2 linked regions of the Homo sapiens genome follow. The protein of the gene in region 2 purifies or fractionates together with the protein of the main gene of each other region. This does not show direct contact. Each region holds a gene or a part of one and is shown on either strand. Other genes may lie near its edges.

The links. The genes of interacting proteins can lie anywhere in the genome.
Region 1: the proteins of SPAG9 (region 2) and NFKB1 purify together in Homo sapiens (affinity purification with mass spectrometry; 5 studies listed by BioGRID and IntAct, with this or other methods). This does not show direct contact.

The regions. Positions count from the first base shown.
Region 1 is NC_000004.12:102,602,326-102,609,358, forward strand, and holds part of NFKB1 (nuclear factor NF-kappa-B p105 subunit), read left to right. Parts: intron 1-189; exon of another isoform or gene 190-661; intron 662-4,170; coding exon 4,171-4,372; intron 4,373-4,824; coding exon 4,825-4,994; intron 4,995-5,323; coding exon 5,324-5,426; intron 5,427-7,033.
Region 2 is NC_000017.11:51,117,869-51,125,190, forward strand, and holds the start of SPAG9 (C-Jun-amino-terminal kinase-interacting protein 4), read right to left. Parts: upstream 3,001-7,322; 5' UTR 2,789-3,000; coding exon 2,486-2,788; intron 1-2,485. UniProt on the Homo sapiens protein: The JNK-interacting protein (JIP) group of scaffold proteins selectively mediates JNK signaling by aggregating specific components of the MAPK cascade to form a functional JNK signaling module.

The DNA of each region.
Region 1 (7,033 bases), on a different chromosome or scaffold from region 2:
CGAGATCATCCTGGCTAACATGGTGAAACCCCGTCTCTACTAGAAATACAAAAAAAAAAAAAAAATTAGCCAGGCATGGTGGCAGGCGCCTGTAGTCCCAGCTACTCGGGAGGCTGAGGCAGGAGAATGGTGTGAACCTGGAGGCTGAGCTTGCAATGAGGCGAGATCGCGCCACTGCACTCCAGCCTGGGTGACAGAGTGACGCTCTGTCTCAAAAAAAAAAAAAAAAGTGTGCTTTAAAGTGCATTTAAAGCAAAACTACTAAAACGTTTACATGTGGCTCTTAATAGTTTTTACCTGTGACTAGGTAAAAATTAATAGGTTTCCTGATAGGGGAAAATGACCATTTTTCATTCAATATAAGTCACCATTAGGCTTCTTCACTGGCTCTTGTGCTTCTTGTCAAAGGAAAAGTAAAGTTAGTGACTCTTCACTGCCTGTTAATATAAAATAACTAGTATGAAGTGTGATTGTAGATTTACATTTAAAGGATGTCTTCTTGAAACTTTCATACCGTTTTGGGGTCATTGGTATCCGTAAGGTCATTTTGCCTGTAAAGCTTGATTCTCGCAGACTTTTGGCTGATTGTTCCTTGTAGTCATCACAAATCTATGAATAAAACCAGGAATGGGACATTGTAGCTTGTCAGTCCTCTTTTCAAACCCTGCTTAACAGTCATATTCAAGGAATTACTTATTTTATGTTTATAAATAGGATCTGCAAAGGACACAGCACAACAGGATTAGTAGCTGTGATTTTTTTTTGGAGACAGAGTCTCACTCTGTCACCCAGACTGGAATGCAGTGGCGCGATCTCGGCTCACTGCAACCTCCACCTCCCAGGTTCAAGCGATTCTTCTGCCTCAGCCTCCTGAGTAGCTGGGATTACAGGCGTGCACCACCACACCCAGCTAATTTTTGTATTTTTAGTAGAGATGGGGTTTCACCATGTTGGTCTGGCTGGTCTTGAACTCCTGATCTCGTAATCTGCCAGCCTCGGCCTCCCAAAGTGCTGGGATTACAGGCATGAGCCACTGCGTCTGGCCAGTAGCTATGATTTTTTTTTTATATCCTAAACTCTTTACTGTATCATTTGGTTACATATGTTGAGACTCTCCAGTGTGTTAGAGACAAAAACCCTGAAACCGCCACCATTGATACTTCTATCCCTTCTGATTTGGGGACTCTCAGAAGACTATACGTCCATTTTTCCCCTACCTTACCACCAGTCTGATTAATGGGCAGTGATTCTGGCTTCCCTAGTATGCCTTCTAGGTGTCAAACACACACCCAATGGCAACTTTGATTTGAGAATTAGAAACTGCTAAGATTTGAACTCTTGATTATCTGTTGTAAAGGTTCTCTAGTAACTATTCTTAATGGAAAATGATACAGTTCTCTAAATAATTTGGATTATTTGACAGTTAAGCATTCTTCCCAAATACCTTTCACTAATCTAAGTACATTTCTGTGACCATCTGTCATGATCAAATTCCTCTCCCCACCCACCCTCTAGAAACACACTCAAAATAGTCCAAGTGCACCGAGTTAGGATTTTTTATGAAAATATTCTCTTTAAGCCTTTTTCTCCTTTCATTCTCCTTCCCCCAACATAGACAACCACTCTATCGTGTTTGGTATGGATTGTTTTATTTGTGTATGTTCCCATAAAACATTATTGGAGGGTTTTATGTATTTTTATGTTTTTAATTATTATACATATCATGTATATTCATAGTTTTAAAAATGGTACAGAAGAATCTACATTGGAAAGTCAAAGTTGCCCACCCTGACAATGCCCAGGTCTGCTAGCACAAATGTCACTATTGTGTTTATAGGTAGTTTTTCAAGTACTGGATACAAATGTACGTATACTTGAAATACATAGATATTTTCATATACTCTCACATACAATCCACATTATATTAAATGTACTTCTCTTGCCTTGCATTAACCTTTAAAATTTTTTTAATTTAATTTAATTATAGATTCAAAGGAGGTTACAAAAACGTACTAGGAAGTCCTAGTATTTACTGCAAGGAAACCAGAGGTCTCTTCACCCAGTTTCCCCCAATGGTAACATCCTGCATAACCTCAGAACAGTGTCAAAACCTGGAAATAGACGTTGATACAATCCACAGATCTTAATCAGATTTCACCAGTTTTACACACACTTGTGTGTATCTGTATAGTTCTTTGTGCATATATTTTTTAAATGCCTAAGTGGCATTGTGCTACATGTTACTGTATTTCTGCCTTCACTGCTTATCCACACAGTTCTACATATAGCTAGTTTGTTGTTTCAGCTCCTGAAGAGAATCTAGTATGGGTCTTTCACCTATAACATCCTTGTTTCCTAGTAGTAGACATTTAACCAACTTCTAACTTCCTACCTCAGTAGATAATACTGCAGTGACTGTCCTCACTTATGTCCTCTTGTGGATTTGTGTCAGAATTTCACCCAGATACATCTGCAAGAGTTGGGTTGCTGGGACATTTGTATATTTGGCTTTCCAGAATGTCTGTGTAAGTCCCCATGCCCACAGCCATAGCATGAAGGTATAATTGTTTAAGATATAATCCTTGGATTTAAGAACTAGAAGGTTTATATCATGGAAAACCATTGATTGGACTGTGGAAGAAAATATTAAAAAAAAAAAACCTCTCCGACTCATAAGATATTTTTTAATTAAATTCAAGCTACAGATAATTTATAATTCCTGAATGGTATACTATCTTATAATTTCAGATCCTTTTTTCACAATCTCATTCTCTTTCCTTTTCCCATCTCCCCAAGTAGCATTTCAGAAAACACAGATTAGTAAACACAGTTTCCATTGACTTATTTTTGAGAAGAAGGCTCTTGGCAACAATATCTAAAGTTTTGAGGACATCACTTCATTTCAGGCCAGGTTGATAGTCCTAGAAAATGAAAGAAATAAGGGCAAGTAATAATTTGGCAAAAAAAAAGGGTCTTGTATAGTAAATAATCACTGTAGTTGAGATTTAGACTACCCTCCCATCATTCATCCTGCCAGTTATCATGTGCTGTGGTCACCTACACAGCTAGGAGGTTGGTGGCTCACCTGCTGCTGTAGCCAGTAACTGCTCAATGAAAAGGGAATTTTAGGCAAATTGTCACAAGACTGGCTGGATGTCATAGTTAGGCTCCTGTGAAATAAACTGATTTGTATAAAGATACATTGCTGTTCTCTGTCAGTGAACTCAGTTATTTGAAAGATACGTTTGTGATTGTATTTGTCTTACTCATTTTTGAAAACACACAGTTTGCAAAACATCTTATTTGCATTCACCGAAGTAATACCTTGTGGGCAGGATAGTCAAATGGACTATTTAAGTACCTATTAGGTATCAGCAGCTCACCTTTTTTATTCAGCTGAGCCCCCTTGGTGAGATACTTGTATTATCCTGGTTATGTTATTTAGAATCTTATAATACCTTTTATGAAATGGGTGTAGGAAAGCTATATTGACTGGTCTCAGGAGCCAGTCCATGGGACAGTATTTTTTAATTTAGTAAATTTAGTTTCCATGTCAGCATAGAATCATGGCACTTTTGTTAATTGGTTTCTATTGAGTACTTTATTTAAATTTCTTCAGTGAAAACATAGCCTTAATTTGATTTGTTAATATAAAATTATCAGCTGGAGGTAACTCCTACCAGATATTTAAGAAAACTAAATTTACTACTAGGTGTGCTCAAAATCAACAATCAGTGGGTTGTAGTGAGAAACAAGAAGCTATTAAGACTTGTAAATATGAAAATAACCCACCACAGAAAAAATTGTAAGTATATGAAGTGATGGATTTGTAACTTAGCCTGATTTAATCATTTTATGTTGTAAACTTAGATTAAAACATCACATTGTACCTCATAAATATATACAATTACTATTTGTCAATTAAATTTAAGATAAATAAGAATTTTAAAACATGAATTATTGAATGGCTAAGTGTTAGTACAGTATATGTACTTCATTAGCATATAGTATGGAACAGGATAACTTGGGTGCCAAGGTCAGAAGTTAATCTGGGAATGAGAAATATTCCTGCAGTATGGCCCCACCTATTGCAGTAACAGCTACCAAGCTGTGAGTTGTAAGTAAGTATTCACTGCTGACCAGTGAATCTCCTGCCCTTTCACTTTCCAGACGCCCTTGCACTTGGCAGTGATCACTAAGCAGGAAGATGTGGTGGAGGATTTGCTGAGGGCTGGGGCCGACCTGAGCCTTCTGGACCGCTTGGGTAACTCTGTTTTGCACCTAGCTGCCAAAGAAGGACATGATAAAGTTCTCAGTATCTTACTCAAGCACAAAAAGGCAGCACTACTTCTTGACCACCCCAACGGGGACGGTAAGAGACAATCACACATCATTGGTGTAACTTTCTCCACCTTCTAAATATCTACTAGGTATTTGATAAACGTGTGTTATTTGATTTGCACCCAAAAGTGCTTTCCTTAGTCACCTGGAGTTCATCATCTCTTTTGGGCATTTCTGTTGCTCACCAAAGCTAATTTTTTTAAAGATGATTTGGAATAGTTAGTAGGAGGAGAAAGCAGAGGCCTGAGTAAAGATTCATCTTGAAGTACACAAAGCGTCGTTTATTCAGAGAATGTTTATTTATGTTCATGTCTCCTGAGAACATAATAGGAGACTGTGGGTCTTCAAAGCAGAACAATAGACTTATAGTATCTTTACTGTCCCTCCCCATGATTCAGTTTTTGCCATTTCCTTCAGCTTCACAAGGGCCATCTTGTGAGTTAGCCATCCCATCCTGTGACTGTCCCTTTGCTTGGACTCTAGGTCTGAATGCCATTCATCTAGCCATGATGAGCAATAGCCTGCCATGTTTGCTGCTGCTGGTGGCCGCTGGGGCTGACGTCAATGCTCAGGAGCAGAAGTCCGGGCGCACAGCACTGCACCTGGCTGTGGAGCACGACAACATCTCATTGGCAGGCTGCCTGCTCCTGGAGGTGAAGGGCACACTTATTTGCTTTTGCATTAAATTTCTGAGGGAGATTTAAGGAAATCTTTTCAAAGAAGGAAGTCAGTAGCTGCTGTTCTCCCTTACAATCAGCTCTATTTGTTTAACATTTATGGAGGGCTTCAGAGTACCACCTTTAGACATTCCCCCAACCCCCTTGCTTGGCATCTCTAACTGGGGATTTCTTCAATGACAGAGCCAGCCCAAAGTAGCAATTGGGCTAGTAATAGGACCCAAGGAGCCATGCACACTGGGAGGTGGGGACAAAAGGGCAAAAGAACCTTCCACTAACGCTTTCTTGTGTGGGCTGGATTGTAGGGTGATGCCCATGTGGACAGTACTACCTACGATGGAACCACACCCCTGCATATAGCAGCTGGGAGAGGGTCCACCAGGCTGGCAGCTCTTCTCAAAGCAGCAGGTAAGATGGTGATCTGGCGGTCATTAATGAAAAATGTTACCAGGAATGCAAACCCAACTTCAATAGAGCAGTCATGTTGCCTTCTTTAAGCCACAGACCTACTGCTGAAAAACAAGGGTAAATAAAAATTATATGGCAAATCACATTTTATCTGCCATAAGGCACTGTTTGGACTAGTAATCTTGGGCTTTACCCTGATAGTCATTTTAGTTTTTACTTTCTGATTCATCTGTTTGTTTGGGGTTTGATTGTTTAGATTGACTCCCATGACAAAGGGTCTTTTCAAAGTAGAGTTTGATTCCTTATAGAATTCTGAGTGGTATTAGTCTCAGATCATATCAGAAGGCCCCAGAAGAAAAAGATTATTGGTATAAGAAATCATTTAAAGACTTCATTTTGAAAGAAATATCTCTTAGAAATTGAAGTGTAGGAAAAAGAAAATGGGCCATGTATTAAGACCCATTATGTGGAAGGCACTAAAAATGGCTAGCACTTATTGACCTTTCTGTGTACCAGGCACTGTGATATGCACTTTATGTGCACAGTCTCATTTAATGCCCAATCACCCCTTGTGACAAATACCATTATTCCCCATCTTAGAGTCAAGGAAACAGACTAGAGAGACTACCAGATCCCACTTCAGGGTTCCAGTAAGTGACAGAGCTATGAATCACACTTCGGCAGTGTGAACTTCAAGACTTTATTCTCTGTACTATGTTTCTCTCTCCTATTTTGCTCATAGGTTTGCAGATGTTATTCCATTTAATTCTCTAGTCCTGTGAAGTATAGAAAATTATCCATGCTGATCTTTGAATCTCCAGTGCCTTGCATATTTAGAACCTCAAAATATGTGTAATGAAATTGGCATCTGAAGCCTGCCCTGACATATCTGATATACTTTAGAGGCTTTTTTTTTTTTTAACTTAAAAGGTAAATGCTTCATAAATTCAAGAAAACAAAGCAAAAGACATAGGAACTTTTTCTTTGGGACACCATATTTTTCTTTTCTCTTTTGTTAAATAGAACTTTTTCTTGAACAAGAAACTCTGATTGCAGTGGGTATTAATAGTTTTAGAAGACACTGATTAATTAAATGCCTTCCAACAAGAAGCTATAACCAGCCAGACGTGATGGCTCACACCTGTAAACTCAGCACTTTGAGAGGCTGAGGTGGGAGGGTCACTTGCACTAGGAGTGTGAGACCAACCAGGTTAACATTGTAAGACCTCATCTCCATTAAAAAATTTAAAAAGTAGCCAGGCATGGTGGCATGCGCCTATAGTCGCAGCTAGTTTGGAGGCCGAGGTAGAAGTATCACTTGAGCCTGTGAGTTCAAGGGTGCAGTGAGCTACAGTTTCACCACTGCACTCCAGCCTGAGCTATAGAATAAGAATAAGACCCTGTCTCAAAAAAAAAAAAGAAAAAGAAAGAAACTATAACCCTTTTAAAAATGCTTTATATTGAATTCTCAGAATCCCATGAAAGGAAAAGCAAGTAACAGTTTCTCTGATATATAAATGAAGAAACTCAGATGAAAAACCAAGTCCTAATCTTAATGTCGTGGAAAAGGTCAGTTAAGTCCGAGTGTGGTGGCTCACACCTGTAAT
Region 2 (7,322 bases):
CACATCTGTAATCCCAGTACTTTGGGAGGCTGAGGCGAGTGGATTGCCTGAGCTCAGGAGTTCAAGACCAGCCTGGGCAACAAGGTGAAACCCCGTCTCTACTAAAATACAAAATATATATACATATTAGCTGGGCGGGGTGGCACGTGCCTATAGTCCCAGCTACTCGGGCGGCTGAGGCAGAAGAATTGCTTGAACCCGGGAGGCAGTGAGCCGAGATCGTGCCACTGCACTCCAGCCTGGCGACAGAGAGAGACTCTGTCTCAAAAAAAAAAAAAAAGAGAAAAGAAAACTGATAACAAGGTGTGTTTATGTTTGTGGCCTGGGAGTGGGCTCATTTAGCATTTCATAAATGTTCTCTGTTCTCAGGTCATGACCCTTTGCCCAATGGTTTCACTATGGAGAATTTACAGATGTAACTGAAAAAATATAAACTACAAATAAATTCATTGGATAACCTATTTTTTTTAGAGTCATTTACTCAAGAAATTAATAGGGAACCCAGAGTCTAGCAGTCGGGCAATTTTGTTTTCTGATTCTGCAACCTGTGGCAGATGGTTTTCTTGGCACGTGTGACCCTGGCATTTTGCCCATATTTACACGGACTGACAGGAGTTTAAGGCTGGAGGGAGCATTTATTTTACGTGAGGTAAAAGGTCATGTCAGGCTTGCTTGTCACCTGTGTGTACATGTGGTTAATTCCCAGTCACTTCCATGTATATCCACACACTGGCAAGGGGCTATATGAGCATGAAGCAGCAAGTAGCACTTGACCTCTGTTCTATAAAGAGTGCTAACAAACAAGCGGAAATTGTGATCCTATCATTATTTGGTTTTTCATCCCTTCCTTCCCTATATGAAAGGAAAAGCTCTTGAAATAGTCCATTCTGGCGGGGTGCGGTGGCTCATGCCTGTAATCCCAGCACTGGGATGGTCAGCCCGAGGCCAAAGTGGGCAGATCACTTGAGGCCAGGAGTTCAAGACCATCCTAGGCACCATGGAGAAATCCTGTCTCTACAAAAAACAAAAATGAGCGGGGAGTGTTGTCCTAGCTCCTTAGGAAGCTGAGGCACAAGAATCGCTTGAACCCGGCAGGCAGAGGTTGCAGTGAGCCAAGATCACTCCACTGCACTTCACCCTGGGCGACAGAGTGAGACTACGTCTCAAAAAAAAAAAAAAAAAAAGGCAATTTTGTTTGGCAAATTCAATAGCATTCCTTTGAGAAAATTGGATCCCACAATCAGAACTAAAAATCATCACTACAGTCAAGCTTTTAAAAAAGGAAAAAGAACTATTTAACCAGATGCAAAGGTATACGTGACAAAATAAAACAAAAATTTAATGGTGTTACTATTCAGTGTCAGGAAATGAGCTACAAACCTCACATCCTAAAAACTCTTCAAGTCTTTTTGAAAAATACTATGTCATTCCTTCAATAATTAGTTATTTCGCCTCCTTTGATCACCATGTATTTAAGCAGGTGTGCTAGGTGCTTGAGAAACAAAAATAGGACACATCACCTGCCTTTGATAAGGTCCACAGAAATAACGCCAACGCAGGCTGAAAGCTAAACTCCTTGTCAGTCTCAAGAAGCCAAGGACCTATCACTTGCACCCTAGAACTCCAAAAGGTTCACAGAGTCGAGGTGAGGGCGCCCAGGTCACTGCTCGGGTGCTAGAGTTAACAGGTGGCCAAATGCACGTATAAACAGCAGTCTAAGAAGGAAACTCAGACGGAAAAAGTGTTGCCAACTGTCACCTACATCTTCCCAACCCCGCCCCCCAATCCTTTTTATAAATAAACGGAGGGTTTTTGAAGGGAACTGTCCAAGGTTACAACCTGATACGGAGGAATGCTTTGGTTTGGGATACCAACGAAATTGTTTATATATTTATTGAGTACTGCCACACAACATCTAAAAGTTGACAAAGTGTCAACCAAGGCACATAGAACATAAAATAAGACGTCTTTCTCAACAAGATTAAAACGTCAAGAAGAAACTGACCGAAAGAGGGAGATCTCTAACTTCCCAAAGCAAGGCAACCCCCTGGAAAGGTACTGGAACTAGCGGAAGTTACATATCCAGGGCAGAAGTGTCCCCCTCCCCAAGGGTAAAACTTTGAACCGCCATCTGACTATCCCACGGTGGTCGGAAACTTCCCTCAACAAGAAGCAACCAGACACCCAACAATCTCCGCCCTTGGCCAACCCCAGGTGTCCTCAGGCCAGGCTGCCGCTTCCTCCCCGGGCCCTGCCTCCTCCATCTCGCTCCCTTCCCAGGACACTCAGTAGCCGGCCTCGGCTTCCAACGCCGGCCTGGCTCCCGGGGTACCTGGAGGCCGCCGGGATCGGTCCCAGGGGGCATCGGCCTCAGGCCCGCCCTCCAGGAGGCCCGTCGCGCCTCTAGTCCCCGACCGGGCCGCGACCCCGCCCCGGCCGCCCCCGGAGACGGATCCCGCGGCCCCCGCCCTGCCGCCGGCCTCACCTCCTCAGCGTGCTTGCGCAGCGCCTTCTCCCGCTCGTACTGGGTGATGAGCTGCTCGTTGTCGTCCCGCAGCAGCTCCAGCTCCACCTGGTGCTCCTGGTCCTGCGCGAACACCGAGTCCAGGTTCTCCAGCACAGCCACCACCAGCGGCATCAGCTCTTTGACCACCTCCTCGTCATAGCGCCCGATAAGCCGCTCGAACTCGCGGTAGATGGAGCCGGCCAGGCCGGACACCCGCTCCGACATCACGGCCCCGGAGCCGCCGGGCTCCTCCTGATACACCACACCGTCCTCCAGCTCCATGGTGGCAAGCGGACGGGCGGGCGGCCCGGGGCGTCGCCGGCAGAGGGGCGGCACCTGCCCGCACGGGACGGACCCGACTCGGGCTGGGACGGGTACTAGGGCTGGAGCCCGGGCCGGGGCTGGGGCTGGGCCCGGCGGGGTGGGGGCCGGGGCCGGAGGAGGGGAGGGGTGGCGTAGGCGCTCTCACCCCAACCGCCGCTGCACCAACTGCCGGGGCGGCCCGGCCGCGCGCGCCACACGTCATCCGCGGGGCGGGGCCGGCGCCGCGTCGGCCCGATGGGCGGGGCGCCGCGGGAGGCCAGGCGCGGCCGGGGGCGGGGCCAAGCGTCTTCGGGCGCTGGCGGAGGAAGCCATGGCGTCAACACCCGGCGCCGCGAAGACGGTGCGGGCGCCAATGGGAAAGACTGCGGTCGGCGGGTGGGGAGAAGTATCCATCCACAGCGGGATTCGCGGGGCGGGTCCCAGGGGAAAGGGAGGGGTTCGGGAAGAGTGACGAGTTAACTTAGCTGGCATTTCTATGGCTTTTTAAAGCTCACAAAGCACCTACTCACTTCATCCCCACAACAGGCGTAAAGAGGTAGATATTTGGACCTCGTTTCACAGACAAAGAAACTAGGCCCAGGAAAGTGGCGTTGCTCTCAAGGTCACGCAGCTACAACGGGAAACGGGCTGAGCCGGGACTCAAACCAATTACCCAGATTGAGAATTCCGGGCTCCGAAAAAAACTGGAAACAGAAAGGGAGGGAAAAAAAACCATAACCAGGGTCTGCCCAAGTGGAAAGGTGGTCTCGAATAGAATAGAACTGTTTTGTGCTATGGAAGAGCAAGGGTGAGATGAGGGGAAATGGGAGTGACTGCTAATAGGTATGGGATTTCGTTTTGGGATAATAAAAATGTTCTAAAAAATGTATTATAGTGATGAATACACAACTCTAAATATGCTAAAAGACATTCAACTTTACACGTTAAGTGAGTGAATCATATGGCGTGTGAATTATATCTCAAGTTATTAAAAAATAAACAGGAAGGGTGATAGCATTCTGGAGAAGGGTGAAACTGGAACGTTACATGTGGCACTTTCCCACATAGTGTGTCTGCTACTTCTGGCCAACTTGGGACGGGGACATTTCCAGGCTCCAGCCACCCTCCTCTCCTCAAGTCTTGAAGTGGGGCGGAAAGGGTAAGTGGGAGGTTGGGGAACAGAGGAGGTAAGGGGTGGAGTCACTGGAGTGAATAAGTCCCATGACAAGTGAGGTTTCTGCCGCCTGGGAGAGTGTCACGTGTGGGGAATGACACAACGCCCACGCCTAGAGCGGGCTGAGTCAAGGATCCCGGTGTGCTCATCTAACGTCCGCAAATGGGACGGAAGACACTCTCAAAAGTCCCTTCTCTGTGTCTCAGGTGACTCAGCTCTCCGTCCCGACTCGTTTAAGAAAAGGGGGAGGAAAGGCAGGATAAACATAGGTTTAAGGGGAGAATTGGCCACCCACCGGGATCATAACTACCCTTAGCTTGGGGTTTACAAGTTTAAGTACTTCCCACCAAGTATGAAGTAGTCCCCTAAAGTTTCCTACGCATGACCCACCTGGAGACCCATAAAAACAATATGAAGGTTGGGCAAGAGTAAACCTATAAATTTGGAAGGACAAAGATGAAAATACTAAGTCTTATGAAGTGCCAGATGGGACTGAATTTGCGGCCTGTGTTTTTTCCCGTTCTCACCCTCACCCCACATTCACCCTTATGTCATTTAGATATTTGGGTAGTAGGAATGCCGACCAGCTGGTTGGCTGTGAGCCGCAAATGCCCTTTCTCTTCTTAACCTTTCATATTTGAAAACTAGAAAAAGTCTTGATCTGAATCTCTCCTCTTTTATTTTCTCTTCCTGAGGGCTGTCACTCACCTGGTCTACCTATATGCATGCCTCTCTTTTCCTGGGGGATCAGAAGAGCCAAAAAACATAGGGCAAGGCTTTACTTTTTCTTTCCACAATATTATCATACACATCAAAAAATTTAAAGAAAAAAGTATCAGCCGGGCGTGGTGACTCATGCCTGTAACCCAGCACTTTGGGAGGCCGAGGCGGGTGGATCACAAGGTCAGGAGTTCAAGACCAGCCTGAACAATATGGTGAAACCCCATTTCTACTAAAAAGTACAAAAATTAGTCGGGCATGGTGGTGCACACCTATAATCCCAGCTACTCAAGAGGCTGAGGCAGGAGAATAGCTTGAACCTGGGAGGCGGAGGTTGCAGTGAGCAGAGATCACACCATTGCACTCCAGCCTGGGCGACAGAGTGAGACTCCATCTCAAAAAAAAAAAGAAAAAAGAAAAAAGTATCGATTTTTCAAGTACGAGATTTTAATTGTCATTCCTAATAAGTATACTTCTTTAGGTATACGTTCAACATAGAAAGATACACACTTATGTCTTGATTTTAAGCTTCTGCCAGTTATCAGAGATAACATTTAGTTAAAATAAAATTCAGCTAAATAACCATCAGCTGATGAATGGATAAAATGTGACATAGGTATACAATGGACTATTATTTGGCAATAAAAAGAAAGTCGTTGGAGGGGAGGGGAGTAGGCGTGGTGGCTCGCGCCTGTAATCTCAGCACTTGCAAGAGGATGGCTTGTGCCATGAGTTGGAGACCAGCCTGGGCAACATAGTGAGACCTTCATCCCTGACAAAAAAAAAAAAAAAAATTTTTTTTGGCCAGGCACGGTGGCTTACACCTGTACTCCCAGCACTTTGGGAGGTCGAGGCGGGCGGATCACCTGAGGTCAGAGGTCAGATGTTCAAGATCAGCCTGACCAATATGGAGAAACCCTGTATCTACTAAAAATACAAAATTAGCCGGGCGTGGTGGCCCGCACCTGTATTCTTAGCTACTCAGGAGGCTGAGGCAGGAGAATCGCTTGAACCTGGGAGGCGGAGGTTGTGGTGAGCCAAGATCGAGCCATTGCACTCCAGCCTGGGCAACAAGAGCAAAACTCCGTCTCCAAAAAAAAAAAAAAAGAATAGAAAAGAAAACAAAAATTTTAAGTACATGCCATGACATAGCTGAATCTTTTTTTTTTTTTTGAGATGGAATTTCGCTCTTGTTGCCTAAGCTGGAGTGCAATGGTGCAACCTCAGCTCACCGAAACCTCCGCCTCCCAAGTTCAAGCGATTCTCCTGCCTCAGCCTCCCGAGTAGCTGGGATTACAGGTGTGCGCCACCACACCCGGCTAATTTTTTGTATTTTTAGTAGAAACAGGGTTTCACTACGTTAGCCAGGCTGATCTCAAACTCCTGACCTCAGGTGATCCACCCACCTTGGCCTCCCAAAGTGCTGGGATTACAGGCGTGAGCCACCATGCCCAGAGATACAGCTGAATCTTGAAAAAGCTAAGTGAAAGAAGTCAGTCACAAAGGACCACATATTGTACAATTCCATTCGTATGAAATGTGAATTTAGTGATTGGCTAGGTCTCAGGGGCATGAGAGGGTGAGATGAGGGGAAATGGGAGTGCCTGCTAATAGGTATGGGGTTTCTTTTTAGGATAATGAAAATGTTCTAAAAATTGATTATAATGGTGAATACACAACTCTGAAAATATGCTAAAAGACATTCAACTTTACACATTAAATGAGTGAATCATATGGTATGTGAATTATATCTCAAGCTATTAAAAAAATATATGAAGTAAAAGTTATGGCTGGTGGGGCGTGGTGGCTCATGCCTGTAATCCCAGCACTTTGGAAGGCCAAGGCGAGCAGATCACTTGAGGTCAGGAGTTCGAGACCAGCTGGCCAACATGGTGAAACCCCATCTCTACTAAAAATACAAAAATTAGCCGGGCATGGTGGCGTGCACCTGTAATCCCAGCTACTCGGGAGGCTGAGGCAGGAGAATCGCTTGAACTGGGAGGCAGAGGTTGTAGTGAGCTGAGATCATGCCATTGCACTCCAGCCTGGGCGATAGACCGAGACTCCATCTCAAATAAATACATAAATAAATAAAATTTATGGCTATAATGATTTTTATAGTAGACCCAATGAAAGCACATCACTCAGTATGATTGAGGTGAAAGAAACTGGTGTTGAAATTAGGAACCTTGTATTCTAGTATGGACTGGTCATTTTGAACAACTTAGGCCATAAACAAAAGAGCAAGTAGTTACTGATTACCCACTTAGTGACAGTCACAAGGATAAGGGCTGTAAACTTCAGCTTATTCATCCGTATGATGAAGGGGTTTGTTAGAAAATCTGTCCCAGCACTTTGGGAGGCTGAGGTGGGAGGATCAGTTGAGGGTAGGAGTTTGAGAGAAGCCTGGGCAACATAGCCAGAGCATTTCTGAAAATAAAAATAAAAAATAAAGCCCAGGTTGTGCTGATGCAGGCCTGTAGTCCCAGCTACTACTTGGGGAGCTAAGCTATAAGGATCACTGGAGCCCAGGAGGTTGAGGCTGCAATGAGCTGTGATGGCACAACTGCACTCCAGCCTGGGCAACAGAGCAATACCACAACTCCATAAAGAAAGAAA